6 linked regions of the Homo sapiens genome follow. The protein of the gene in region 1 purifies or fractionates together with the protein of each later gene. This does not show direct contact. Each region holds a gene or a part of one and is shown in the gene's direction. Other genes may lie near its edges. The genes, in order: MOG, REEP5, TSPAN15, SAAL1, KBTBD8 and ARL6IP5.

The links.
Region 2: the proteins of MOG (region 1) and REEP5 purify together in Homo sapiens (affinity purification with mass spectrometry; one large-scale study listed by BioGRID and IntAct). This does not show direct contact.
Region 3: the proteins of MOG (region 1) and TSPAN15 purify together in Homo sapiens (affinity purification with mass spectrometry; one large-scale study listed by BioGRID and IntAct). This does not show direct contact.
Region 4: the proteins of MOG (region 1) and SAAL1 purify together in Homo sapiens (affinity purification with mass spectrometry; one large-scale study listed by BioGRID and IntAct). This does not show direct contact.
Region 5: the proteins of MOG (region 1) and KBTBD8 purify together in Homo sapiens (affinity purification with mass spectrometry; one large-scale study listed by BioGRID and IntAct). This does not show direct contact.
Region 6: the proteins of MOG (region 1) and ARL6IP5 purify together in Homo sapiens (affinity purification with mass spectrometry; one large-scale study listed by BioGRID and IntAct). This does not show direct contact.

What each region holds. Positions count from the first base shown.
Region 1 is NC_000006.12:29,662,540-29,668,198, forward strand, and holds part of MOG (myelin-oligodendrocyte glycoprotein isoform alpha1 precursor), read left to right. Parts: intron 1-3,612; coding exon 3,613-3,726; intron 3,727-5,103; coding exon 5,104-5,124; intron 5,125-5,364; coding exon 5,365-5,385; intron 5,386-5,659.
Region 2 is NC_000005.10:112,880,728-112,884,227, reverse strand, and holds part of REEP5 (receptor expression-enhancing protein 5), read left to right. Parts: intron 1-3,500. UniProt on the Homo sapiens protein: Plays an essential role in heart function and development by regulating the organization and function of the sarcoplasmic reticulum in cardiomyocytes.
Region 3 is NC_000010.11:69,502,321-69,506,830, forward strand, and holds part of TSPAN15 (tetraspanin-15), read left to right. Parts: intron 1-2,117; coding exon 2,118-2,165; intron 2,166-3,803; coding exon 3,804-3,920; intron 3,921-4,508; coding exon 4,509-4,510. UniProt on the Homo sapiens protein: Part of TspanC8 subgroup, composed of 6 members that interact with the transmembrane metalloprotease ADAM10.
Region 4 is NC_000011.10:18,088,066-18,093,724, reverse strand, and holds part of SAAL1 (protein SAAL1), read left to right. Parts: intron 1-1,400; coding exon 1,401-1,480; intron 1,481-3,231; coding exon 3,232-3,291; intron 3,292-3,434; coding exon 3,435-3,550; intron 3,551-4,214; coding exon 4,215-4,395; intron 4,396-5,659. UniProt on the Homo sapiens protein: Plays a role in promoting the proliferation of synovial fibroblasts in response to pro-inflammatory stimuli.
Region 5 is NC_000003.12:67,007,004-67,012,566, forward strand, and holds the end of KBTBD8 (kelch repeat and BTB domain-containing protein 8), read left to right. Parts: intron 1-918; coding exon 919-1,382; 3' UTR 1,383-4,207; downstream 4,208-5,563. UniProt on the Homo sapiens protein: Substrate-specific adapter of a BCR (BTB-CUL3-RBX1) E3 ubiquitin ligase complex that acts as a regulator of neural crest specification.
Region 6 is NC_000003.12:69,099,791-69,104,277, forward strand, and holds part of ARL6IP5 (PRA1 family protein 3), read left to right. Parts: intron 1-2,048; coding exon 2,049-2,266; intron 2,267-4,487. UniProt on the Homo sapiens protein: Regulates intracellular concentrations of taurine and glutamate. Negatively modulates SLC1A1/EAAC1 glutamate transport activity by decreasing its affinity for glutamate in a PKC activity-dependent manner.

The sequences.
Region 1 (5,659 bases):
CTACCACCTTGCTGCAGCACTTGTCAATCCAGGGACCACCCACCTCACCGGCTCCCCACTCATTACCACCCTCCCCTACTCAATTACTGAGGTAAATCCTAGGCAGCATGATCATTTCTTTTTTTTCTTTTTATTTATTTTGAGACAGGATCTGTCTCTGTCACCCAGGCTGGAGTGTAGTGGCATATCTCTGCTCACTGCAGCCTCTGCCTCCCGGGCAGAAGCCATCCTCCCACCTCAGCCTACATAGTAGCTGGGACCACAGGCACACACCACCACACACTGCTAATGTTTTGTATTTTTTGTAGAGACTGGGTTTTACCATGTTGATCAGGCTGGTCTCAAACTCCTAGGCTCAAGCAATCCTCCCACCTCGGCCTCCCAAAGTGCTAGAATTACAGGCGCGAGCCACTGCACCCAGCGAAGAACACTTTTTAAAAAATAAATAGGCCGGGCGCGGTGGCTCACACCTGTAATCCCAGTACTTTGGGAGCCCAAGGAGGGCGAATCATGAGGTCAAGAGATTGAGACCATCCTAGCTAACATGGTGAAACCCCATTTCTACTACAAATACAAAAACAAAATTAGCCTGGCGTGGTGGCAGGCGCCTGTAGTCCCAGCTACTTGGGAGCTGAGGCAGGAGAATGGAGTGAACCCGGGAGGCGGAGCTTGCAGTGAGCTGAGATCATGCCACTGCACTCCAGCCTGGGGCAACAGAGTGAGACTCAAAAAAAAAAAAAAAAAAGCCCCCCCTCCCCACACACAATAATATAAATAAATAAATAACCACAATACTATTATCACATCTTACAAACTCAACAAAAATTTCTTAATATCATCAAATACCCAGTTTGTGTTCAAATTTTCCTGATTGTTTCATAAATATACTCTTACAGTTGGTTTCTTTTAGCGAGATTCAAATGAGACCCACCTGTTGACCTTTGCCCTTAGGGTTTCCCAGGGTCTGAATTTTGTTGACGACATTCCCATGTTGCTATGTAATACGGTCCTCCATGCCCTGTGTTTTTCTGTAAACTGATAGATGTGGAGGTGCAATGACATTTGTGTTTGATTTACTTTGGCAAATATAGTTCATCAGTGATACTCTATACTTCTTGTTGCTTTACATCCGGAGGCTGATAATGTCTGCTTTTCTCTCTTTTCTAATTATTTGTGAAAGGAAAAATGTGGGGGGTTGGGAGAAAAAAACCCTTAAGTACATACTCGCTAAATCACATTGCTACAGGTAACTTCCATTAAGAACTTGAAAGTAAAGGTAGCTGCATTTTCCCCTAGGGAACACAATGATAGACAGGAGCCTTAGTCTACAGCTTGAAGGATTGTAATTATACCTAAGCAACCCTCCTGGACCAGTTTAATGTTATTAGCTGTGATGTATCCCTACCTTTGATGTCATTATCCTTACTCAGCTCCCTTAAAGCAGAGATCAAGATGAAAAGGGCTTCAGCTGCAGCATGGCACATGGAGATTAGAGTGGGGCTTTTGGATGCTGAGGAGCAGACCTAGAATGGGAAATAGATGGGAGCCACAGAAGTGAAGGTCCCCCTCCCTCATTGCTCAACCTACTCCACATCTCCAGGTCTGCACATCTGTTCAGTTACTGAATCCTGTGTAAGCTACCTTCTTTTTCTTTTTTCTTTTATTTATTTATTTATTTTTTTTTTGAGATGGAGTTTTGCTCTTGTTACCCAGGCTGGAGTGCAATGGTGCAATCTCGGCTCACTGCACCCTCCAACTCCCAGGTTCATGCAATTCTCCTCCCTCAGCCTTCCAAGTAGCTGGGATTACAGGCTGCACCACCATGTCTGGCTAATTTTTGTATTATCAGTAGAGAGAGGGTTTCACCATGTTGGCCAAGCCGGTCTCGAACTCCTGACCTCAAGTGATCCACCCACCTTGGCCTCCCAAAATGCTGGGATTACAGGTGTGAGCCACCATGCCCGCTGTAAACTACCTTCTTAAAAGCTCTAGAAGAGGGCTCTTAACCTTTTGTTGTGTGTCATGCACCTTCCGCAAGCTGATGAAGTTGATAGACCCATCTCAGAATTTTTTTTTTTTTTTTGAGACAGTGTCTCACTCTGTCACCCAGGATTGGTTGCAGTGGCACGATCATGGCTCATTGCAGCCTCCACCTCCCAGGCTCAAGTGATCCTCCTGACTCAGCCTCTTGAATAGCTGAGACCACAGGCTTGTGTCACCATGCCCAGGTAATTTTTAATTTTTTTTCGTAGAGGCAGGGTCTCACATTATGTTGCCCAGTCTGGCCTCGAGAACTCCTGGGCTCAAGCAATCTTCCTGCCTTGGCCTCCCAAAGTGGTGGGATTACAGGGGAGAGCCACCACACCTAGCCAGAAGAATGTTTTAAATACACCAAATAAAACATTTATACCAAAATACAGTTATCAAAATATTAAATTAACAAGAGTTAGGGTGACCCTATTAATTAGTGTAATTTCAAAATAGTAATGAACATAAGTGATAGTTTGAGATTTCTGTGACTTTTCTAATGTGACGTGAAAATATTTGTGATTTTTCTTTTTCTTTTTTTTTTTTGAGATGGAGTTTCGCTCTTGTTGCCCAGGCTGGAGTGCAATGGCAAGATCTCGGCTCACCTCAACCTCCGCCTCCTGGGTTCAAGCGATTCTCCTGCCTCAGCCTCTTGAGTAGCTGGGATTACAGGACTGTGCCACCACGTCCAGCTAATTTTGTATTTTTAGTAGAAACAGGGTTTCTCCATGTTGGTCAGGCTGGTCTTGAACTCCCAACCTCAGGCGATCCGCCCGCCTCGGCCTCCCAAAGTGCTGGGATTACAGGTGTGAGCCACCGCACCTGGCCAATATTTGTGATTTTTATTGACGACAAAGTCAAAGGTTCTCTTCATATTATTGTGGTGTATCGCCTACAAGCATAATTAAAATAAACACTAAATTTCAGTTTAAAGTTTACTGAAAATAAATATGTATTTTTTATTCCCTATTTAAGCTTTGAATCCCCTGACTTCCTATACCATTACCACTGTCCTAGTTCAGGTTCATGTTGTTTTTTACTTTAATTGTTATCACAGTCTCTTAACATTTCTCCCTATGTTCTCCAGTCCTGTAGGTGCTAAATCTGACGTGGTCACTTCTCAGCTTGGAATCCTTCAGTGCACCACCACAGCCTTGAACTACATATTTGAAATACATATTTATTTTCAGTAAACTTTAAACTGAAATTTAGTGTTTATTTTAATTATGCTTGTAGGCGATACACCACAATAATATGAAGAGAACCTTTGACTTTGTCGTCAATAAAAAGTCCCTTGAGGGACTTCAGATGTAAGTCCCTTAGCTGCTCGTTAAAACTCCCCCAGCCTGACCCAATACACAATCTTGACTTTAAACCACTTGTCATTCTAAATCACTAGCATTTCCTGGAAAAAAAAGCCATTTTTCCTTCAGGGCTAAGCTCAGGGACCAATTCTGTGTCACCTTCTTTGAATCCTGATGATATTCACTTCTTTATTTGACCTGATTTATTGGGCCCCAGACACCATGCTGAGTGTTGGGGATTCAGCTCTGGACAATGTCAAATGTCAGTCCTGCCTTTCAGATCCTTTCTACTGGGTGAGCCCTGGAGTGCTGGTTCTCCTCGCGGTGCTGCCTGTGCTCCTCCTGCAGATCACTGTTGGCCTCATCTTCCTCTGCCTGCAGTACAGACTGAGAGGTACAGGGCAGAGGGTGGGTGGATCAGGATCCTTTCTTTAAATGAGCTGGCTTCTTGGAGCTACACCACTTAACATGTATTTGTGAGTGACTTCTGGGTTCAGAAGTTCTTCTCACTATTGAGTGATAAAGAAAAAAAATAACTCCATGATGAAAGAGTTTTACATCTTACGGAATGCTTTCATATGAATAATCGGACCTAGCATTTCCCTATGAGCTAACTATGCCATATAGTAACCCCATTTTACAGAGGATACAACTGAGGCCAGGAGTAGTTCAGTGACTTACTCAAACCGATATAACTTATAAGTGGTAGAGCTGAGGCCTCTGTATCATACCTAGCAGCTCCATGCAACTTGGGAGAGTGTGAGCTTCGAAGTCAGACAGGTCTAGGCTATTAGGAGTTTTGAATAAAGATACTGAAGTGAAAGTCTCTACCACACAGTAGGCGTTCGAAAATTGTTTCCTCTTTCTCCATTCAACACTGAGGACTCAGGTTCAGCTGCTGATGAAGCTCCTCTTTTTTGCCTAGAGCTTTCATTCTGAGCCTTCTCCTCCTACCAAGTGTCTCCCCAATGCCAGAGCAGGAAGAGTCTTCACTCCTCCCCATGCCCCACCTCCCATTTGTTACTAAGAGGAGAGGAGAAAGTAGCAAGGAGGGTATGGGGAATGTTCTGGGGGAATGGGTGTTGGTGCGATCAACAACAAAGTCCTTTCTCTCACCTTGAATTCATCCCAGATGCCTGCTTGTTTACTTCTTCCACACAAAAAAAGGCCTTCAGCCCTCATGGCTGAGCAGAAAGAATCTGAATGTTAGAGTCAGGCAGCCTGGGTTTGAATTCCATCTCAGGTACTGAACTCTATAGCAAAATTCTTAGATTCTCCAAGCTTCAGTTGCCTTGTCTGTCAAATAGAGAAAACATCCTTCGTCCTAAATTGTAGGGAGGATTAAAGTCATGCAAAGTGCCTACTACAAATCCAGTCACAAAGTAGCTAGCTACTCACTAAATGTTCAGCTCCTCCCTCCTCATTCAGATGGGAAGTGGCTTTAGATAAACAAAGTGGCAACGCAGTGGGCTGGAGCAGCTCTGTGAACTGAGAATCCAAGAAAAGGGGCGAAGAGCAGCTGGGATGTATTGGATGCTTGTGCTGGCTTGGAGCATTGCTCACATTCTTTATTCGCTATTGTATCTAGACTATAGCTAGAGAAAGAGCCGCAACCATTGGCTTTAAATCCAGTGCTCTTCCTACTCTCCTGAGGTTGTTTCCAGGCTGCAGAGAAATAGCCTGCACAAGGGGCCCAGGCGCTGGGTGTGGGAGGGTCCCCACCGAGAGCCAGAACATGCAGGAACTAAAATGTTGCCTTTTTCTATTTTAGGAAAACTTCGAGCAGAGATAGGTGAGTTCCAGTCATCGTTTCTCCCAATTCTTGCCTTTTGGTTTTTTGGCATAACGGAAATGGTCCCGTTCTTGGACCGTCTCTCCCTCTCAATACCCTGTTTTCCCCTCAGTTTCCCTTTCTCTACAGTGGGTGTGTCGTGCCTAGAACAAGTTTTAAGTAATTAAATAACAAAGACTCAGGATAAAAGATCCTTTTTGAGTGCCCTACTAAATCCATTTCCATTTGTTTCTCTTTCAGAGAATCTCCACCGGACTTTTGGTAAGTTCCGGCATGTCTAGGCCCTCCCAGGTCAACTTGGTATTTCACTCTAGTTCCAGTCACCTGGGGGAACAAGGACCCCTGGCTCCTGGTTGAGTCCCTTCCTCTCTTCTCTTTTCTTTCTTTAAATAAGAAGTCATTTGCATTTAGGATTGGTAAAATCATAATAAAAATACTCATGTACTGTTTTTATGTGCCAGGCACTATTCTAACTACTTTACAAAAATGTTATCTTATTCTGTTTAACTCCTTATGCACATGATCTCTCTTTTCA
Region 2 (3,500 bases), on another chromosome or scaffold:
AATGCCTTATAGGCCATTGTAAAGGTTTGGCTTCTACTCTATGTGAGATGTGGAGGTACTGGGGACTTTTAACCACAGAAGCAAAATGATCTGTCCTGTGTTTTAATAAGATGCCTGTGGCCACTGTATTAGGAACAGACTGAAGGGGTAAGGCAGGAAGTTGGGAGAACAGTTAAAAGGTTCTTGCAGTGATCTGGCTGGAGGTGATGATGGTGGCTTGGTTCCTTGTGTAGCAGTAGGGGGTAAGAAGTATCAGATTCTTGATATATTTCAAAGGTAGAAGTAATGGGATTTGCTTATGGATTGGCTTATGGATTGGGCATGGGTCAGAGGGGTTAAGGACAAGGACGAGCTTTTTAGCCTGAACAGATGGAAGGATAAAATTGCCACTGAGCTGGAGAAGACTGGGTAGAACAGGTTTTGTTGGGGTGGGAGGTTGTGGTGGGTGGGAGGATATGGAATTTAGTCCTGGACATTTGTTTGAGGTGTCTGTTTGTTAGATACCTACAAGGATTAGTCAAATAGCTAGTTGGATACAGGTGTCAAGAGTTCAAGAAACAGGTCTGGACTGGAGATATAAATTTGGGGGCCACAAGCTTATACATATTAAGCATGAGACTAGATGAGATCACGAAGGTAGTGTAGTTAGGAAACAGGAGGTCCAAAGACTGAACGCTGGGGAGTCTAAGGTTTAGAGACTGGAGAGATGAGAAGCAACTAGCAAAGCAGACTGATAAGGAGTGGCCAATTGAGGTAGCAAGAAAACCATGAGCGTGTGGTATCCCTGGGGCCAAGAACAGAAAGTTTTTCTTTCAGAGAGGAGAAGTGATCTGTCATGTTACATGCTGTCAACAGGTCAAGTAAGATAAGGACTGAGAACTGAGCAGATTTAGCAATGAGGAAGGTACTAGTGATTTTGATAACACAGATTTTGTGGAGTGATATCAAACTCCTGATTGCAATGGATTTGAGAGAATGAGAGAAAAGGGATGAGAGAATATAGATCTTTCTTTTGAGAAATTTCCTGCAAAGGAGAGCAGAAGAATGGGGCTATAACTGGAAGAAGGAATTATGGTCCTGAAATTTTAAAAGTTTTTTTCTTAAGGTAGGAGAAACAAAGCCTGTTTGAAAATTAATGGGAATAATTCAACAGAGCAAAAAATGATGATAGGAGTGAGAGGGTGAATTGTTGGAGCTCTGTCCTTGACCAGTGAAGGATCCAGTATACAGTAGAGGGATTGGTCGAAGAGCTGGAAGTTTATGGTAACAGCAGGGAAATCAGGTTTTATGGTATGCTGTGAGCACATGTGACTATGGGAGCCTACAGAAGTGACTTTCTAATTGTTTCATATTTCTCAGTAAAGTAGGAAGGCCAATTGAGAGAGGATGGGGAAGGAGACAATGGAAAGAGAAGGTATGAAATAGTTGCGAAGGAGAGGGACTGCTCATCTTTTTCTGTAAAGGGCCAGATAACAAATGTTTTAAATTTCGTGGGCTATCATGTCTCTGTTGCAGCTACTCTTCTCTGCCATTGTAGTGTGAAAACAGCCATGGACACTACATAAGCGAGTTTGGCTGCAGTGTGCTGGCCCCTCTAGGACAGTTGGAGAGTAAATGGACTGTCAGGCAGTGTTAAAGGCATGCTTGAGATTTGCGTTCATGAATTTATAGTGAAACCAGTTCTTGTTTATGTTTTTCTCCAGCCATACTCAGCTACATGGGTATAGCTACAGAGTAGGTGGAGAGTTGTGTCAAGGTTGTGATTTCCAGCAAGAACTATGAAGTGAGGGTGGGACTGTGGAGTGGTTAATGCTTGACAATGGAATTTAACCTGAGTAAGGTGGGAAGTGGTGGTGGAAGAACTCTGAATCAGGATAATAGCGGGAATACTCCATCATCATCTACAATGAGCAAAAAAGCAGGGTGGGGAGTGCACTACAAAGATAAAAGGTGATGGTGGCTGAGTGGGATGCTTGATACAAGATTATGGAGGGACTGCAGTATTGGTACTAACAGGGATCCTGGGAGTCAGTGCCATATGTAGGGTGGAATATAAGGGTTATTGGAGGGGAGGAACTAAGAGGTCAGGATATTAGAAGATCATCACATATGTCTACATGGATATTAAAATCATCAATAATTAAAATAGGAGTAGTAGGTCAGGTGCAGTGCTCACACCTGTAATCACAGCACTTCCAGAGGTCAAGGTGGGTGGATTGCTTGAGCTCAGGTGTTTGAGACCAGCCTGAGTAACATGGTGAAACCCAGTCTCTACAAAAAAAAAAAAACACAAAAATTAGCCAGATGTGGTGATGCGTACCAGTAGTCCCAGCTACTCAGGAGGCTGAGATGGGAGGATCACCTGAGCCTGGAGGTTGAGGCTGCAGTGAGCTGAGATGGCATCACTGCATTCCAGCCTGGGTGACAGAGTGAGACCCTGTCTCTAAATAAATAAATAATAGGAGTAGTGTTAGAAAGGAACATTAAGTTAGGAGCTAAAATCTTCAAGAACTAAGGCAAAGTAGCCCAAGAGTCAGGGATGACAGGGAAAGGGAAGGCTACTCAGTGATAGAATCTGATGACATGAGATTCTGAAAGTGGCAATGAAGAACAAAAACAACACCTACCAGATCCATTTGTACTAGGGTCATGAGAGGAAAGAAACAGCCACCACTTGAGAAAGCAGTGTCCTCAGGGCACAGCCAGCTTTCTCTAAGAGCAAGAAGGTAAAGGAAACATTCGGAGGAATGGATGAGGATATAGATTTTGCCAGTGATGGGTCTTGAGTTCCAGAGGGACTCAGATTTTAGAAATTGGAGAAAGGTTTTTGTGTTTTAGAGCTCTGTGGTAGTTAGACATGGGAGTTGTGAGGTTGCCTGACCATGGGGAAGTAAAATCCCAAGACAGTTCTCCAGCAGCACTGATGCCCCAGAAGTGGTATGTTCCCCATTTCTCCCTCACAGACCTCTCTTCTCTGGACTCCTATTTTTGGGCATACAAATCCAGTCTACTTGAATATGTTTTAGGTATTTTTTAACTTGTAGCCTTAACCTCCTCCCACTTTAGGATTGCCAGCTTTTTTTTTTTTTTTTTTTTTTTGAAACAGAGTCTCACTCTGTTGCCCAGGCTGGAGTGCAGTAGCATGATCTCAGCTCACTGCAGCCTCCACCTTCCAGGTTCAAGGGATTCTGCTGCCTCAGCCTCCCAAGTAGCTGTGATTACAGGTGTGGGCCACCACGCCCAGCTGATACTTGTATTTTTAGTAGAGACACCGTTATGCCATGTTGGCCAGGCTGGTTTCAAACTCCTGGCCTCAAGTGATCCACCCACCTCGGCCTCTCAAAATGCTGGGATTACAGGCATGAGCCACCATGCCCAGCCAGGATTACCAGCTTATTTTTAAGAGCTTTCTTTTCTTCTCCCTTCCCTTAGCCTAATCAGCAACCTGTGGTGATGTCATTTCTGTCTACTTCACCCACATTTCTTAGCCTCTTGGTTCT
Region 3 (4,510 bases), on another chromosome or scaffold:
ATGGCTCCAGACTGCTGTGCCTGCTGAGCTCTTGGGACCAATTTTCACGTACCTCCCCTCCCTTGTTGTTGGCTACCCCTTGGGGGCCTGTCGCGAAGGCCCCTCTCCCTGTCCCCATTAGCTGCTCAGTCTTTTCAGGGTGAGAGGATGCACACACAAACATTGCTGTGATCTTCTGGCTGCCCAGGAGTCCCCCTTCTGACTTCCTGTCCTGTGGCCCCGTGCAGGATGGAAGAGGCTACTGGACCCTGGTCTTGGGGCCTGTGAACTTCAGCAGAGCCTCTTGCAGAATATCGATTCTATGGTCAGGCAGGTAAACCCAGGCAGGCTTTACTTTTGGAAAGACTATGGATGCATCGTATCCCCTCACCCCTTGGTGAGGGGCTCTCCTGGCAGGGTGAGGTGAGTCCCCCCTGGGCCTGGAGAAGGGTTCTGGGCTCTGATGCCAGAGAGGCCTCTGCCAGTTGCCTGTGTGCTAAGAGACTCATCCCCCGAGGTCACCAGAGCTGGCCCAGTGAAGTCACTCTTGTCACCTCCCTACGTACCATGCAGCTTACCTATTTGTTATGTTCATTATCTCCCTTTCTACAGTGTAAGTTCCATGAAGGCAGGGACTTTGTCTTGTTGTTCTGTATTTCAAGTGACTAGAACTGGGATTGACATGCAATAGGTGCTCAGTTAATATTTGTTCAATGAACAAATGAATGAACCAATGAGATGGAAAGCACTCACTCCCATCATGTGCCCGTGCACCTGCTCTCCAGGCCTGACCCTCTCCATAGGGGTTGTGTTTATGGCCTGGAAGGGCCAAAAACACTGGCTGACTAATGCCCAGTGGGCACTGGGCATGGCTGGGACTGAGGCTACCTGGAGAACCAGCTAAACCGAGGGAGGTCGTCTTGCCTGCACATCAAGCCCTGACATTTAGAATGACCTAGATGACATCTGAGGCCCAACCCTCTCTCGGAAGGAGAGAAGACACCCTCCCTTTCCTTTGCAGGGGCTGGAATTGTGAACAAATCACGCCAGCCAGCATTCTTGTGCTCCTCCATGTGCCCAGCCCCGTGATAAGCACTTTATATGTGTATCTCACTTTATGTCCAAAACAGCCCTAGGAGGTGGGTTCTGTGATCATCACAACCTATTCATTCATTCATTTTCTCAGTTAACAAATATGTATTGAGTACCTCTGCGTGCCAGTTCCTTAGCAGCCCACCTAAGGTTGGGCTCTGCTCCTAAGTGGCAGAGCAAGATCTGGACCCAGGAAATGTGACACCAGAGGGCACGCTGGGGGCTCTGCTGTTGCCCTCCTGAGTCATCACTGGCGCCTGCAGCACTCACGGCAGCGTTCACTTACATGTAGAGCAGCGGGGCTGGGGGGGACGGTCATGGGCTGGACCAGGAAGTCTCACTCTCTTCCCTGGTGGTTGGAGAAGGAGACCCTGCGGGGCACAGGTGGTGATGGGAAGTGCCCGCGGCAGCCTGTGAGTTAGGGCCTGCCTGGGGAGGGGTTTGATGAGGTCTAGGGCGTGACCACAGGTTTCCCTATGCCTAAATTAATCAGTAGTCGGGAGTTCTGGAGAGCACCTCTCTTCCCAAGAAGGAAGTTTTGGCAGCACTCTCCGCTGGTGGAGCAGTGGTCTATGGAACGGAAGCATGGCCAGGGGCCCTGCCCTGGACCTCAGGTAAACCACAGCTGACCCTGTGCCAGCTGTAGTCTGAAGTTTTCCTCCCCAAGAGCCAGCGGCGCAGGAACAGCCCCACCCCGACCTCTGAGACGGTGTGAGCAAAGCGGTGCTCTGGGGCGGTCATAGCCCGGGAGCGTGGGCAGCACACCTTTCTCTGGGGTCCTGATCTGCTGCTAGTGGAGGGGTGGTTCTCCCAGGTAAAAGTCATGGAACCTGCATTCCTACAGTTTTTTCACGGGGCATTTCTTGGAGGAGGAGGTGGTTATGATGGAGACTCAAGCCAGACTGCCTGGGTCGGAATCTCAGCTCCATCCCTGCTGGACGGTGCAACTCTGTGCTTCGGTTTTCATCTGTAAAATGGGTAGGATAATAGTGCCTTTTTGAGTTAGAACCATTATAAATATTAGCTATTATACATTTCCATTTCAGACAGAAGTTGTCAACACCATGTGTGGCTACAAAACTATCGACAAGGAGGTAATGTCTTTGAAATGCCTTTCCCTGGAAATGTTGCTCTTCCTGGTCCACCCTGGGGTGATCGGAGGGGTTTATTGAGGTCGGGGTCCTGGCCACTGAGATTTTCCCACATTCCTGGCTGTGACCCAGAGCCAGGACTGCTGTGGTTTTCCACCCCAGCACAGAAGGGCTCAGGGAACCAAGAATTCCCCCAGGCTGGGAGATGCCGCCTGTCAGGGTTTGCCGAGCACCTACTGTGGGCTGTTCCACATGAAGCCACCACGGCGCTTCCTGGTACCCGCAGCGTGCTGTGTGCCCAGCCATGCTCAGCACCAGCTTGCCTCTGCCCCTGGGGCCACCTGGGACCCAGGAGTCCTAGAGGATGGTAACCCCCTCTGGGGGTTGCTCCTGGGTCAGCTTCCTGGGCAACACCCCTGGTCTAGGAGAGAAGCAGGGGTGGTGCTGAGAAGGGACCTAAAAGGAATAGTGACCTGACATGCAGAGCAGTGGCTTTCAAAGTGGGGTCCCCAGTCCAGCAGCAACAGCATCCCCTAGGAATGTGAGAAATGCACATTCTTGGTATGGGGCTAGTGGGTGATTCTGACACATGCTTGAGAGCCATAGACCAGCAGTGGTTCTCAGCCCCTCAGAACCAATGGCCATTTTTATAACAAACAGTGGTAATGTCCTATTTATTATCCCCAAGTGAAATTCACAGATAACCTACCTACATGCCCAATTCCAATACAATTAACATAATGATCTGAGATAAAGTAGAAATGAAATACAGCAATTTACAGCTGTTTAACATAGTTCATCATGTAAGTGCTTAGGCAGTGGGGGGTGCAGAAGACACAATGTAGTCAGGTGTCTGCACTGATGTGAGGCATCCCTGAGGCTGTAGTAGCTACAGGGCAGCTGATACTGGGCATTGTGTTGGCGACTCACATACCATGGGCATCATTTTTGCCACTGGCATGGTTTTTAAAAACGGTGAACAATTCTTGATAAAGTTCTGAATTAAATAATGTGTAATCATTCCTTAATTTACCTAGTAGTACTTCTGGAAAATTCTTTGTATATTAAAACCAATGCAGAAATGCTTTTTTTTTTTTTTTCCCTTAAGAGACAGACAGGGTCTCACTGTTGCCTAGGCTGGCCTCAAACTCCTAGGCTTAGGCACTCCTCCCAACTGAGCCTCCATAGTAGCTGGGACTGCAGGCACTGGCCACCATGCCCAACTCTGCTTTGTTTTTTATATGTACCTGGAGTGGGGCTATTGGCTTGGATAATTATAAATAGGCTTTTCATGTATGGAAAACATCCGTGAGGCTTTTCATGCAGGGACATCTGAGAAGCACACAGGCAGGGCAGTTGTTTGTGGAGTAGGATTACCCTGAGCTCTGCAGTCCCTCAGCCGCCAACCTCGTTTGCTGGGGCAACCAAAAGTGCCACCACGGTGTCCCCAGTCCTCTCTAGAGAACAGTACTGTCCATTAAGAATCAGAATCTAGGGTCACCTTCTCATGCTGCATATGGGAAACTGAGGATCACAGCGGTTGAGGGACTAGCCTGGACCTTGTGTACATGGCAGAGTCGGGGCTGTGGCTCCTGCCAGCCGAGGTCCTCTGCTGGGCTGACCCAGCTCCTTCCCATGCAGCGTTTCAGTGTGCAGGATGTCATCTACGTGCGGGGCTGCACCAACGCCGTGATCATCTGGTTCATGGACAACTACACCATCATGGCGGGCATCCTCCTGGGCATCCTGCTTCCCCAGGTGGGCAGGCCGTGGGTTCAGAGAAAGTGTGACTTGGTGATTGCAGAAGGGCAGAGAAGGTGCAGAGGGGAAGAGCGAAGAGGCTTTTTTCATAGAAGTCCAGGACTTGCCTGGGGAGGGCTGCATGGCTGGAAGGAGGGGCAAATGGCAATAGCAGTCGTGGCGAAGCTCTTCCAAGTGCTGCGCAGGCACTGCTGCTTCACTTCTTTTTGTGAGGGAGGCACTATTATAATGCCTATTTCACAGAGGAGGAAACTGAGGAGCAGCAAGCTTCAGTGACTTGCCAAGATCCCCTAGATAGTGTGCAGCAGAGCTGGGGTGGAGGCAGGAATCCCAGAAGGGAGGGGCCCTTGCTGATGGGGCACAGCGAGGCGCTCTGGGATTTCCTGGGAAGGGGAGAGGGGGCCCAGGTGGGAGCTTCTTGGGCAGTGTGGGTGCTGGGAGAAGTCTCTGCTGTGGGTGTTGCCCAGGTCACACAGGACCATGAGGGCTTGGGACTGGCTGCTTGGGTTTCTGGGAGCCGGGAGCTGCAGGGAGGGCTGCCCTGATTCCCAGCAGGCCCTCACCAGCCCTGCCCCTTCTTCTCAGTT
Region 4 (5,659 bases), on another chromosome or scaffold:
AGTTGGAGATCTTAAGATCTTAGGCAAGTAGCTTAACTTCTCTGTGCCTTAGTTTCCTCATCTGAAAAAATGGGGATACTATTAGTACCTATCACCTAAGTTATTATATGAAATTATACACAGAAAATGCTTAGAGTAATGCCTGGCCACCGTGAGTGGTAATAAACTGTTATTACATATTAATTAACTATTACTGAGATAGATTCTTAAGTTCTTTTCAACTTCTTTTCCCTATACACTAGTCTCCCCTTATCCTTGGGGGTTGCATTCCAAGGCCCCCAATGCCTAAAACCGAGGATAGTACTGAACCCTATTTATAATATGCACAAATTTCCTTTTCCTTCTTCACAGTTTCATGGATAGATTTGTTCTTAGAGATCCTAAGCAACCTCAGCATACATTTTTGTTTGTTTTTCTTATGAAGTCAAGAACTTTTACCTTTTCATGTAAAGAAAGCACTTAATGGCGGCTCCTTGGCATATCCAAATTGCCAGCATCACTACTCTTGTGCTTTGGGGTCATTATTAAGTAAAATAAGGGTGACATGAACACAAGCCCTGTGAGATATCCCGATGGTCGATCTGATAGCCAAGATGGCTACTAAGTAACTAATGGGCAGGCAGCACATACAGTGTGGATATGTTGAACAAAAGAATGATTCACATCCTGGGTGAGACGGTGCAAGATTTCATCGTGCTGCTCAGAAAGGCATGCAATTTAAAACATGAATTGTTTATTTCTAGAATTTTCTATTTAGTACTTTTATACCAAGGTTGACCATGGGTAACTGAAACCATGGATAAAGAGGGACTACACTAATACATTATGCATTTCGCCACCAGAGTAATCTTCCTAAGATACTGTTTCAGTATGTTGTCTCCCCTCCTTGAGCATCTTCATGATTCCAAATAACTTCCCAGATTAAGTCTAATTCTTCAGCACGGCATTCAGAGCCCTTAATCTCAGTCCTTTATACCTGCAGTATTTACCTCATGCTGTTCACCCACTTTGTGCCACAACCAGAGTACTTTATTGTCTACAGTATTCGCCATGTACATGATTCCCTTCCTGCCTTTGCTGATACTTTCCCCTTATTTGAATGTCTGTCTTTTTGTTTGCATATCTCATTCCTATCAATCATTTAAAACTCATTTTATCGATAGAAGTTCTTCTCGCATAGCTCCTGCCTTTGCCCTTTCTTGTTCTTACGTTTTTCATCCCTTCTCAAATACTGTAAGCTTGTCAAGGTTAGGGTACAGGCAGTATATGTATTTCTTTATCCTGCCTCCCCTCCGCCTTGCCCCAAAACTTGGCTCAGCGAAAGTTTTTGTTCAAGTTGATATTTTTGTTTACGTCTTTCGTCTCAGAGCCATTGTGACTTGTAAAATTTGATTTGGCAGGAAATCTGTGTGGGAATTTTAGGTAATATGGCCTGTTTCCAGGAGATATGTGTGTCCATCAGCAGTGATAAAAATCTTGGGTAAGTCTTACTATATAATTATGTTTTTTAATATATTCATTTATATCCTTAAGGAAATTCTAATACATAGGAAAAGTAGCAAATCTGAAAGACAGTCCTTTCTTTGTCTTGATGAACACTCTGTGGGAACTTCATTGTGTGTTGATGATAGCTAGGGGCTTCTTCAGGAGATACTGAAATGATTCAGGATTTAAGCCTGTTTTCTTCAGTAGCAAAGGAACCTGAATTGTCAGCTGGTGGCAATAAGCCAGATAGGGGAAGAACCAGTGGGCCAAAACTTGGAGATGGGGCAGCCAACTGGAATCCAAAACAGTTTAGGGGCAGGGAATCCAATGACTCAGCTGGAGTCTACAGAAACTAGATTTGTTGAATAATGTCATCCTGAGAGCTCTGACTTAGAGTGTAAGACTTGCCAACAACTGGAAGATAAAGGGTTGCCTCTCTGATGAAAAGACTTTCAGATATCTGCTTCGAGGCTCGTTCTCTTCTCCATGTGTAAAGTTCTGGGCAGAAGGTGTTTTAATGGAGGAAACCCCAGTGGTTACTGTGTTCGGAGAACACCCCGAAATTATATGCTGAATTTTGTGAGTGTATTAGTTTTCTAGGCAAAGGGTTCATGGCTTTTAATCAGAATCTCAAAGAAATTTGTACCCAAAATAGGTTAAGAAAACTGTTCTAGGCAGTTTTTGTCAGAGCTGGGGCCATGAGGGTTTTATCACAGGATTCAAGTACCTGGGTTTCTCAGAAAGAGAGAACTCCTAGTTGTGGAGGGACTTTAAGATCCTAGTTCAGAGTATTTATTCCTCAGTAATTTACCATCATCCATGGAACAAATGACTTAAGATTATGTTTGGTCTCTAATGTTCTCTATCAAAAATCCAAAAATGAGAAATGTTAACAAATGTTATAAATTCAGTTAAATGCTTGTCTTAATATTAGTGTGGTGCAATTTATATTGCTGATGGGATATAAATTTGTTGAACCACTTTAGTTGGGCATTATCTGGTCACGTTGGAACATATGCATGTGCTGTGACCAGCTCATAGTGGGCATATATGGTAAGAGAAACTGTGCACGTGTGCATCAGGATAACTCTTAACAAATATTGTAGGAGGATTGCTTGAAATAGCCCCAAATTGGAATCAACAGAAATGTCCATCAACAGTAGTCTGGAAAAATAAATTGTGTTATTTTCACACAATGGAGTGCTCTGCAGCAGTCTGTCAAAGAATAACAGCTAAAGAAACAACATGGGTAGATCTTACATGTATAATTTTCAGCAAATAAATGAAGACTCAATAAGTATAATTTATTTCATATGTTGTCTCCCCTCCTTGACTGTCTTCATGAATCCAAATAACCTCCCAGATTATGTCTATTTATTCAGCATGTCCTCTTAATCCTTTTACCTGCAGTATAAAGCAACACCAAAATATATAAAATAATAAAACTATAGTGCAAAGTAAGGAAATGATTGCTGGAAAAATCAGAATGGTCATCATTTCTAGGTGGGAAAGAGAATTGTGATTTGGAATGGACACATGGTGACTACAAAGATGCAGCTCTGTTCTGTTTCTTGGAAACACGAGTGTTTGCTTTATAATTATTTATTAACTATAGATTTGTATCTTTTGAGCTTTTCTGAATATATGCTGTATTTCACAATAAAGATGTTCAAAAAATTAAATGAAAACTCTGATATTTTAAATGCGAGAAGTGAGGCATATCGGTTAACTTCTTTGTTTTTGTAGGCAGGTGTTATTGCACTGTTTGTATGATTCAGACCCACCTACTCTGCTGGAAACAAGCAGGTATGCTTTTCCTTTTATGAATTCTATAAGGTTACTCATAAGAGTAGATAAGAAAAAAAAGTTAATTTTTTATTTTCGAATTTCCTTTACTGTTTTTTTTTTTTTTTTGAAAAGTAGAAATTCAACCCACGTTTACCATGTAGGTTGTTGCTTACTTGCCTTTCCCAGGCAGAAGTGGCCAGTGTTTGGGTTGAAAGGATCCAGGAACATCCAGCTATTTATGATAGCATTTGCTTCATTATGTCAAGTTCAACAAATGGTAAGTCATCATGTACTCTAGAAAAAAAATGTTTTAAATTGTATCTAATTTTTAGGAAACCATGTAACTATTTCTAGAAGTCACCTTTTTAAAAAAAGCCTTGAGTGCAAGGTAATGAAGTTTGTTTGAGACAGAATCTTGCTCTGTCACCCAGGTTGGAGTGCAGTAGTGTGATCATAGCCTACTACAGCCTCAAACTCCTGATCTCAAGGTATCCTTCTGTTAATCTCCCCAATAGCTGGGACTATAGTCATGCACCGCCATGCTCAGCTCATTTTAAAATTTTTTGTAGAGACGGGGTCTCGCTTTCTTGCCCAGGCTGGTCTCCAACTCGTGTGTTCAAGCAGTCATCCAGCCTTGGGCTCCCAAAAGTGTTGGGAGTATAGGTGTAAGCCACCATGTCCAGCTTTTTGTTTGTTTTTTTGAGAAAGTTTTTTGATTGAAGATACAAAATTTCTTAAACTCCTGGGACACTGATAAATTCCTCATTTAAAAATGAGGAAAGATAAGCAAATTTAAACATAAAAGATAAGTAAATCACCCTTTAGAATAAGTACTGCTTTGGCAAGATTTGGTTTTCTTAGAATAGCTTTAGGAATTTTGCTTAACCCTATTGCTTTTAGCAGTTTGTTTTTCATTTCAATATCTGTTTTATTCTCTGCAGTTGACTTGCTGGTGAAGGTGGGGGAGGTTGTGGACAAGCTCTTTGATTTGGATGAGAAACTAATGTTAGAATGGGTCAGAAATGGGGCTGCTCAGCCTCTGGACCAACCCCAGGAAGAGTCTGAAGAGCAGCCAGTGTTTCGGCTTGTGCCCTGTATACTTGAAGCTGCCAAACAAGTACGGTAGGTGAGCTCTTTTGTGTAAAATGTTCTGGGAAAATGCAATTGCTAGAAGTATTCTCAGATATAAAAGTCTTCTTATATTCCTTACAACAGAATAAAGTACATAGTCACTCCTTGTTACGTTAATTCACTACTACTATTTGTGATGCAACCTGTATAGTGGTTACAAAGTTCCTGTTATATTATCATTTAGCTATAGGCTGTTACTCAACATTAACTGTGGTTTCTGTCTTACCATATTTTATGTAATTTAAATCAAAGAGAAAACATTTTCTTGTGCTTTATTTTACATTGAACATTTAACAACTTCATTAACGTTGCACATCATTTGCTTTTTTTTGCTCCTTGTGTTTATATGCCAGTCTTCAATAAGTGACCGATGTTGGGACTCTGATGTCTTGCCAAGAGTGATTACTAAGCCTTACAGGTCATTAAAACTGTTTATTGCTAATCACTAGAAAATTAATTTTTAAATTGATCTGCTTAGTGTTTTTCTTAGTGCATTCTTAGTGCTGAGTAAGCCACATCAAAACCTATTAATTTTGTGTCCTTTATCCAAGTGAGGGATAAATTCATCATCTTTCCCTAAACCTGCTTCATCAGTATTCTCAATCTCAGTAAATGATGTAATCATTATCCTATTTGGATAATGTAGAAGAAATGGAGAAGCCAATTACTGAATCTTTCCTGCCCCAGTATTTTCCCATTGCAGTCAACTCCCAACCCTTATTCCTGACATTTTCTGGGATTCCATCCATGCCAATCAAGCCATTATTGTTTCTCATCTGGAGAACTGCCACATTCTTTTACTTGAATTCCCTGCCTCTATGCTTGCTCTTCCCAAGCCTAGACTTTAAAGCTGTTTTTGCAAAGTACGCACTCATTTCACTCTCATGCTTCGGTCTTTTCAGTTGCCTTCCTTAGGATAAGGTCCAGAAAAACAAACAAACAAACACAGCTTGGGTACTACATACATCACCTGGGTGATGGGACCATCCATATTCCCAAACCTCAGCATCATGCATGTAACAACCCCCAACATGTACCTTCTGAATCCAAAATATAAATAAATAAAATAGGGGAAAAAAGAATGAAATAAATGAAAAATTCTCAAAAAAATAAAGTACAGCTTATGGACCCAGTAGCGCTATCCTTATTCCTTGTACTCTGCGTTTCAGTCATGTGAAGTTTGCGTCACTTCTTCAACTGAACCAGGCTGTCTTGTCTCCAGGCCCTTGCACAGTATGTTTCCTCCACCTCAGAC
Region 5 (5,563 bases), on another chromosome or scaffold:
GTCAACATCACAAACCATGTATGTGTTTTCTATCTTATTAAAGTCATGTTTTCTCCTGCTGAATATTTCTCTTTGCATTATAGCAACATTCAGGTAAGCACATCAGTGACCCATAAGCATAAATCTGCACAATTCCATCTGCTGTCTTCTAATTAAATAGCATACACATTTATCATGGCATATTTATGATGATGTTACATGTATGCATTTTGGTCTTACTGGCTGAACGTTACTAATAATGCTTTTTTAGAGCTAGAGTAAAATGAATTTTCTATAAACACACAAATTGGATAGAGCAAATAGAATCAAGTTTGTGTTTTTTTTTTTTTTTTTGAGATGGAGTCTCACATTGTTACCCAGGCTGGAGTGCAGTGGCGTGATCTTGGCTCACTGCATCCTTCACCTCCTGGGTTCAAGTGATTCTCCTGCCTTAGCCTCCTGAGTAGCTGGAATTACAGGTGCCTGCCACCACACCTGGCTAATTTTTGTATTTTTAATGGAGATGGGGTTTCACCATGTTGGCCAGGCTGGTCTCAAACTCCTGACCTCAAGTAATCCACCCGTCTCAGCCTCCCAAAGTGCTGGGATTACAGGCGTGAGCCACTGTGCCTGGCCAGAATCAAGCTCTTAACAATTCTGCCATCAAGCCCAAGTAACTCCTTGTACCTTCCCAATACAAACCTCCCAATTCAGGTTGATTATAATATTATCTGTTATATTGTGTCATGGAATGACAAAGTTTTAAGGTATTTTGTAACCCATATGAATGTATCTCTGGAGATTATAAAAGAAATGTTTTAGAAAGTGAAATATATAGCAAATTATGCCCTTTAATCTTTAGAGGTTGTAGTTACAACATATAACCAAAAACCAAACATAAAAATTTACATATTCTTGTTTTCTTTTTTTTTTTTTTAGGAGAATTTTTTCTCTTCTATGAGCCTCAAAAAGACTACTGGGGTTTCTTAACCCCCATGACTGTGCCTAGAATCCAGGGCTTAGCAGCTGTATACAAGGACTCTATCTACTACATAGCTGGAACCTGTGGAAATCATCAACGTATGTTTACTGTAGAAGCCTATGATATTGAGCTAAATAAATGGACTCGTAAGAAAGACTTTCCATGTGATCAGTCCATAAATCCATACCTTAAACTGGTACTTTTCCAGAACAAACTCCATTTATTTGTTCGAGCTACTCAAGTGACTGTTGAAGAACACGTCTTCAGAACCAGCAGAAAAAATTCCCTTTACCAATATGATGACATTGCTGACCAGTGGATGAAAGTGTATGAGACCCCAGATCGGCTCTGGGACCTTGGCCGGCATTTTGAATGTGCTGTTGCTAAACTGTATCCTCAGTGTCTTCAGAAAGTACTCTAAATGAGTAGCAGGCCTTAGTGCATCACTGGCATCTCATTCTTAGGAAACTTGTCTTTGATACAAAAGAGTGCTGACAGTATTTCAGAAAGCTGAGAGAGTTTTATACATGGAAAATGGGTATGCTTAAAGATTGCAGGGTAGGGAGGGATTTTCCTTCATCCTTGTGACATTTCATTTCAGTAAGGAAAAGATAACAAAGTGCAATTATCAGCATTTTTTTTTCCTGGCATAAAATTAATCATTTCATTTTATAATTTTGTGATAAATAGTAACTGAGGTACCAGATGAATCAGGACAACTATGCACTCTTATAAGAGCATTTAGGGTATTATTGGGTAAAGACGTCTAAACTTGTTTGATGTGACTTTTAATTTTAAATACGGGTAACAATCTGAGGCAATATCACTAGGACTTTAGCTGTGACCTCTCTAACACAGAGAAGCACTAACTTAGATCCTCATTCTTAATATTTATATGTATCTATTTTTGTGTACTGTTTTCAAGTGTACTGAGATTTAAATGTGTTCTATTATTAGAGTAGATCGAAGAAAAAATTAGTCTCAGAAAGAGCTTTTAGTCTGATTGTTTCCATTTCCCATGTAATTTTAAGTTAAGCTAAAGTTTTAAAGTGGCAGTTTTCTGTCGATGACTTTTTCAAGTGCTAACACTGTCTCTTTTGTGAAAATCTGGAAAAGTGCTCATATTCACAGGTGGCTGGTGCTAGTCTAACTTAATTCATGTGTATAACTAGATGGATTTAAATGGTCTGAGCCTATGCCTATCTTTCAAATTGGTGTGGATTTCATGGCCATAGTACTTTACCTGTTGAACTCTTGTGATTTCACAAGATTCTCTACTTATGTGATAGGAGGGTATGGCCAGTTATTCATCTAACTGGACTCAATCTTAGAATAGTAGGAACATTATACCCAGTTTGCACTAACATGGGCCATTTGTAGCCCAACCTTCTCTTCCATCTACCTGTCCATTCATTATTGGTACAAGGAAAGGTAACTTATTTCTCTTCTGCACAGAGCATAATGTGAAGTTTTATACCTACTTTTAAAATTCTGCTTTCCAGAAACAAAATTCCTGCAGTGGTCTAATTTAATGTCTTTAAGTTTCATATTACAATTAAAACCTCATTTTTTTTTTCCATTTTTGCACTTAACAGTGATGAATACTTTTACGTTGGAATCCTCCTTCTAGCTGAAGGTGATTGAAAAGGAAAAGAGTGAGTGAACAGAACCATAGCTTTCTAGGTACTAAAGCATTTTTTGCATTTAACTGATGAAATTTCTAACAATCATCAGTTAGGAATATTAACATGAAGGATAAACCAACTTATTTGTATACCTAAGGCAGGCATTTGGATCAGTAACATGTTTTACTAAGCCTAGAGTAATTCGTAAAGGGTATAAGCATAGGACAGATTTTGCCCTCAATCACAATATTTGTATTCACTTGAAAGCAAACTGGCATGGTTCGTATTTTAAAAATCTTGCACAAATTGTAATGTGATACTGTGAAACAAATTGAAAACATTGCCTCTTTGCATCACATACCTCGTTTTTCAGAAACTTTCCAAACTGCTTTACATAGACCTCTACAAGTAGGGAATGTTTTCTGAAGCAGAAGTTAAAATGGACAGCATTTCTAGAATTAACATTTTAAAATCTAGTCTTAGCTAGATATGTGGTTTCTTCTTATTGGTGTTGATAGTATGTCTGTAATCTCTGTATAAACTTTGTCAACATTTTTACCTCCCCAGTTTTATCTTCTGTTTTGTTTTTGTTTTTATCATCATGATGTTTTGGAGTTATTACTGTGTATTTTAGAAATCATTCTTTACAGTTTTGCATTGCTGAGGAGAGAGAAAAAACAATTTTTTTGCAAGAGATGTTCATGTAATTTATTTTTGAAAGCTTTGTTGAATAAGATTTCCTGCCGCTTTTTGACAATCTTGTGTATTTAGAAAAATGTATTACTTGAAAACATGACATAGAACATTGAGTTAGCAATTTACATGGGCTGTATGTTATATAAGAGAATGACATACTGTGGCTAATTCAACAGTAGATTTATTCTTTTAGCCTGCACAACAGTTGATCTTTTGGCTATGACAATTTGTATGGAGGGTACGATCTAAGTTAAGTGTGTCAAAAGCAAGGCTTAGGATTTGTTATGGGAGTAGAATATATATTGAATTTTGTATGAAGAACTATTTGTTTAAATTATATAGCTGGGATATTTTGCCACTGTTAAAATGGATTCAGAAGAGGTCCTAGAAAAGTAAGATTAGTGACATGTGTGGGTTTATATTTAGATATTTAAGGTGCATTTTCATAGTGTGGTAAGACCTTAAGTAAAAGGCACAATGGGTACTACAGAATTAAAATGTAGGTCTAACATAATGCCAGTTCCACTTTAACTTTGTTTTTGCATTTGAAGAATGTATGTAGCACTTTCCTATATATTTGTCACACATTGAAAACTGGACTGGGTATAACTATGTTATAGGAAAGTAGAAATTGTATTCTTTATTTTCCATCTTTGTTTTCTGTTCTACAAAGTTGATGCTTAAGCATCAAGCTGATTTTATTGGTCATGAGAACAAATGGATGTGATCATGAAGGAATCAGATTCCCTATGTAAAGCAGTTTAAAATGGAATTCAATGTTCAGTGCTCAGGTATGTAGTAAGTACTGTAGTCCTGTGGGGGCAAATGTGTAGATATTTTTAAACATTTTGCCATAATTGCACAATTTTTTGCATTTTTACCTGATGTCATTGTTTCTTATAATAAAACCTTTTCTGATTGAAAACTTCCAGTGTTGCAAAGTGATATCTGACTAGTGAGTGTTGCAGAATTAAAATCTGGTAAAAAATCATGAAATACCTTATGTCATGATAGAATGGAATGAGATTTTAATCTATTGAATACCTGTCCTCTGGTAAAAAATGAACTACTTTATGTATATAATACTTTTTAAATTCTAAAGCAAGTTAGTTCACTTATATTGGTAAATTCTTTGTTCTGTTTGTTCTGGCCTAAAATCTTGTTATGTTTGACTCTTTTGTGTTGGTCCACTTTGCATTACCGTAAAGGAATACCTGAGATTGAGGCCTCAGGAGGCTTTAGCTCATGGCAGAGGGTGAAGCGGGAGCAGGAAAGAGAGGGAGCCAGAGAAAGTTGGGGGAGGTTCCTGTCTCTTTAACAATGGGATCTCACATGCGCTCATTACCATAGGGAGGGCACCAAGCCATTGATGAAGAATCCACCCCCATGATCCAAATACCTTCCACTAGGCCCCACTTCTTCCAACACTGGGGATCACATTTCGACATGAGATTTGGAGGGGACAAATGCCCACACTATATAATCTCTTACGTATTTCATGTTTAATTCATCAGAAAGTCCCGTTGCTTCTTCCTTCATAATACATCCAGACTCAGACCACATACCATTTGCACCACTGTCACCCTAGTCTAAGCCAGCTTATCTTATCTGACTTAATGCAGTTTCCACTGACTGGTCTTCCTTCTATCACCCTTGACCCCTCATAACCTATTCTTTTCTCCACACAGTACTCAGAGTGATCCTCTTAAAACACAAGTCAGATCATGTTTCTCTTCTGCTCAGATCCTTCCAATGGCTTCCCATCTCCCTTCATATGACAGCCAAACTCCATACTTACATGATCCACCCCTCTCAAACTTGTTGCCATTTACTTGGCTTGCTCTATTTTAGCCACACTGACCTTGCTTGTTGCTCAAACCTGCTGAGCACCTCCACAGCGACTTTGCCCTTGCTGTCTCTTTTGCTGGATAGATCTTGACAACTCACTCACTTTCTTTTTTATTAAAACATCACCTTACTGGAGAGGCCTTCTCTGATCACATTTTGTAAAATAAGATCATCCAACCCCACCCCCATCATACCTCCTGCTTTATTTTTCTGCTTTATTTTCCATATGTGTCTTCCCCCATTGAAATGTACACTCCACAAAGGCAACGAATTTATTTTAATTCACTGTTGCACTTTAGATTGATGCCTAGCACATAGTAGGCACTCAATGAATGCTTGTGGGAAGAAATGAATTTTCAGTTAAGTCTTGGAGCCTAAAGGATTACCAATTTTATTGGTCTTTTCAAAAAAAAAAAAAACCAGGTTTAGTTCT
Region 6 (4,487 bases), on another chromosome or scaffold:
TCCTCATTAGCCTCTAGGGTAAAAAGTTAAGTAACTCATTGTACCAGCCCACCACAGACGTCTTGTTAAGGGTTTTGTATACACAGTGGATTGGGGTGGGCGACTATAATGCCCAAAACTTTGTCTAAATTTCTTCTTCTTATTATCATTATTGAGACAGAGTTTTGCTCTTGTTGCCCAGGCTGGAGTGCAATGGCGTGATCTCAGCTCACTGCAACCTCCACCTTCTGAGTTCAAGTGATTCTCCTGCCTCAGCCTCCCAAGTAGCTGGGATTACAGGCATGTACCACCACGCCCAGCTAATTTTTGTATTTTTAGTAGAGATGAGGTGCCACCATGTTGGCCAGGCTGGCCTTGAACTCTTGACCTCAGGTGATCCACCCACCTAGGCCTCCCAAAGTGCTAGGATTACAGGTGTGTGCCACCATGCCTGGCATAAATTTCTTCTACATAATGTGTTTCCTCCATTATCAATAGTAGTGTAATTGCTATTACATACTAAACATTTGGCTTATATAAGAATGAATCTGGAACTGTGTGCTTGAAAATCTGCATTGGTAACTCATCTCCTAATGATACTTTGGGCATTTTAAAACACTTATAATGAACTCTCTATGTGAGGAGTCATAAACTCAAATGCCTCCATGGGGCAGGCAGGTTATGTAAGAGAGCGATTCAGGCCAGCTATTAGAAAAACAATGATTAGACTGGGCATGGTGTGGCTCATGCCTGTAATCCTAGCACTTTGGGAGGCCGAGCTGGGCAGATCACTTGACGCCAGGAGTTCAAGACCAGCCTGGCCAACATGGCAAAATCCCACCTGTACTGAAAATACAAAAAATTAGCTGGGCGTGGTGGCATGTACCTGTAATCCCAGTTACTCGGGAGGCTGAGGCACAAGAATTGCTTGAACCCAGGAGGCAGAGGTTGCAGTGAGCCAAGATTGCGCCACTGCACTCCAGCCTGGGTGACAGAGCAAGACTCTGTCTCAAATAAAAAAAAAAAAAAAAGAAAAACAGTGATTAATAGCACCTCACTTTGGGCCTATGTGTCCATGATGCAGTAGAGAGCAGTGTGGACTGGAGCTCAATGGAGACTGTTTATTCTGTCTGAATGAGAAGGCACTCAAGCCAGCTGTTGACATGTGGGAAAGTGGGCCTAGCACTGTTATTTTCTTGTTCCAGGAGAACAAGAAATCCCAAGTTTTCTGGATTTTTTTTTAACACATGGGTTTCAAGTAAAAGTTTTTTAAAACACTGTACAGGCCAAACAAAAATGTGACTGTATACTGGATCTAGCCCATGGAGGCCATTATGTGGCCTGTATTCTACATTCGTCCATCATGAGCTTCTCTGAGGATTTAAATAAACCTTTAGAGCTAAGAAAACACAACCTACTGTGTACTAGAGCCCAGGATGTAAGGAAGCTAAACATAGTACCTTCAAAAGAAGTTTTAGTCTTCAAAATTGTGGACCTCTAACGAGATACTTTGATGGGAACTGCCTGGGTGTGATCTCAGCTCCACCTTTTTTTTTTTTTTTTTTTTTAATGAGATAAGGTCTCACTCTGTCACCCAGCCAGGAGTGCAGTGGGGGAATCTTGGCTCACTGGAGACTCAACCTCCCAGGTTCAAGTGATCCTCCCACCTCAGCCTCCTGAGTAGCTGGGAACACAGGTGTGTGCCACCACACCTGGCTAATTTTCATATTTTTGTAGAGATGGGTTTTGCCATGTTGCCTGGGTTGGTCTTGAACCCCTGGGCTCAAGTGATCCTCCCACCTTGGCCTCTGAAAGTGCTGGGATTATAGGTGTGAACTACCATTCCTGGCCTTCCCCACCATTTTCTAACCTCTGTGCCTTAGCTTCTTCATTTGAGAAATGAACTAATAGTATCTCCTTTATAAGGTTATGAGAAATCAAATGAGACAATTTAGATAAAGTATTAAAGTATTAGTAAGTTCTCAATAATTGTTTTTACTCCTCTTTCTCCTTTTGCTACTTCTATTGCTGAACTAGTCACCCCTCATTTTTTCTTCCTCATATTTCAGGTTTCTGAGTCCCTTCAACATGATCCTGGGAGGAATCGTGGTGGTGCTGGTGTTCACAGGGTTTGTGTGGGCAGCCCACAATAAAGACGTCCTTCGCCGGATGAAGAAGCGCTACCCCACGACGTTCGTTATGGTGGTCATGTTGGCGAGCTATTTCCTTATCTCCATGTTTGGAGGAGTCATGGTCTTTGTGTTTGGCATTACTTTTCCTTTGCTGTGTAAGTGAACTTGAGTTTTTTCTTCCATCATCAAAAAAATGTAGAAGCAATTATCCAACGGGAATTCCATAACCCATTTCTTATATGTGTTGGCATGTCAGCAAAAGTGTCAGAATTTTCTAAAACAGCTTTCTACTTGTTATCCAACTAGACCCAGATAACACAGAACTGAGGTCAAGAACTATGAGGTCAAGGCCTTATAGTTCATTAATTCCACAAATATTTGTTGGGGCATCTGCTATGTGTCATACATTCTTTTGTTGTTGTTGAGATGGGGTCTACTCTGTCACCCACGCTGTGGTGTTATCTCGGCTTACTGCAACCTCTGCCTCCTGAATAGCTGGGACCACAGGTGCACACCCAGCTAATTTTTTGTGTTTTGGGTAGAGACCGGGGTTTTACTATGTTGCCCAGGCTGATCTCGGACTCCCAAGCTTGAGTGATCTAGCTTCCTTGGACTCCCCAAGTGCTGGGATTACAGGCGTGAGCCACTTCGCCCAGCTGTGTGCCATACATTCTTATGGGGACACAACAGTAAACAGAACAAAGACAAATCCCAGGTCATACAGCAGGAATGTGGCATAACCTGCACTAGACTCCAGATTTGTCTAATAAGAGAGTCTATTCTCAATTTTTAAGTGCCATTCCTATTGTCCTGACACAGGAATGAATGTATTTATTATTTGGAAGTAGACTATTTATTCTCCACTTGCTCAGGAGATCATAACTAGTGTTAAAAGTTTGGTAAGTCTATAGGAATAATTGGCTCAGAATATAGGTACTAAATACTCAGATTCTGGTGAAGAGATCTAGATATTCTCTAAGTTTTACATGAATTATTTACTAAGACTCCAAACACTTGAAGCCTGAAATAGACAAGAAATAAAATCCCAGCCTAATCAGCAGAAATCTGATTAAAATTCTAGTATATTAAGTGACAGGCACATCCCTTTAACTTTCAATAACATTTGACATGTGCACTTATTCCACTAAATGAAATTATTTGCTTGTTTAGGGCTTTGTTAGATTAAGTCCAGAATATTTATGGATACATCCCATACCCTATTGGATAAAATATCTGAGCCAACAAATTCACACATTTTTGGAATTTTCTTCAGGTTTTCTGTAGGTGCTTAACGCTTAGTATTTCAATGATACTGTTTAATCAAACAGCTTGCTAATTTTAATACCTTTCCACATCAGAACCTGAGACAGGCCAGTGTAACGAAATGTATCAGAGGTAGACAGTTAAGAGTCCTGATTTCTATTCTTAGACCTGCTGGAAACCAGCATGTGATTTGGACCAGTCATCCTATATGGGCTGTAGTTCACTCATCTCTAAAGTAAGGAGATTAGATAAGTGATTCCCAAACGGATAATTGTGACAAGCATTCAGGATACTTTTTAAAAATATACATTTCCCAGCCACATCTTTATTTTGTGGGTCAACAGTGGTACCCAAGGATGTTAGGTTTTTAGAAAGCTCGTCAACTATTTCTAACGGGTGGTCTAGGTTGAGATCCTCCAGATGAATCCACATCAGGGTTTTTCAAAATAAGGGTCCAAGATCCACCTACATCAGAATCATCTGGAGTGATTATTAAAATAATGAATTCTGGAGCCTTCCCTCAGTTGTAACAGTCTGAATTTGGGGTGATGGAGACCAGGAATTTGCCTATTTAACAGGCTCTCCAGGTGATTTGAATGTACATGGAAGTTGTAAAACCACTGGTATAGATCATATGGAGAGAGGGTTACCTGTTTAAAATACAGATTCCCAGGCCTGTCTCTTTAAGGCTCAGGTGGAGGAGGTCCAGGAAAGGGGATAGGGAATCTGTGGTAAAATAATCAAGCAAGTTTGGGGAACGGTAGGCTATAGAAACTCTGTAAAGCCCTTAGATTTTTACATCTAGAATTCTATACCCAACACTTTGGGTAAAGCCTCCGGGAGGCACTTTAAAAGTGGACTTTACTCACGTGCTCCTGCAGGGAACAAGATACAGATAATCCCGAATCGAGCAAGAGTTCTTTTCTGGAAAGCCTCGGGTAAGTTGATTTTTAAGTAGGATGGAATCCCGTTGATTCACTCTGAATTTCAGGACATTTAAGTAGCATCTGCAAGGTGATGATATCAGTGTGTGAAGGAAAGGGTGTGGCTTCCAGATAATGGTCCTTCCTGTTGAATACAGCATTTTCCTTTAATGCAGAAAAAAAACTATGT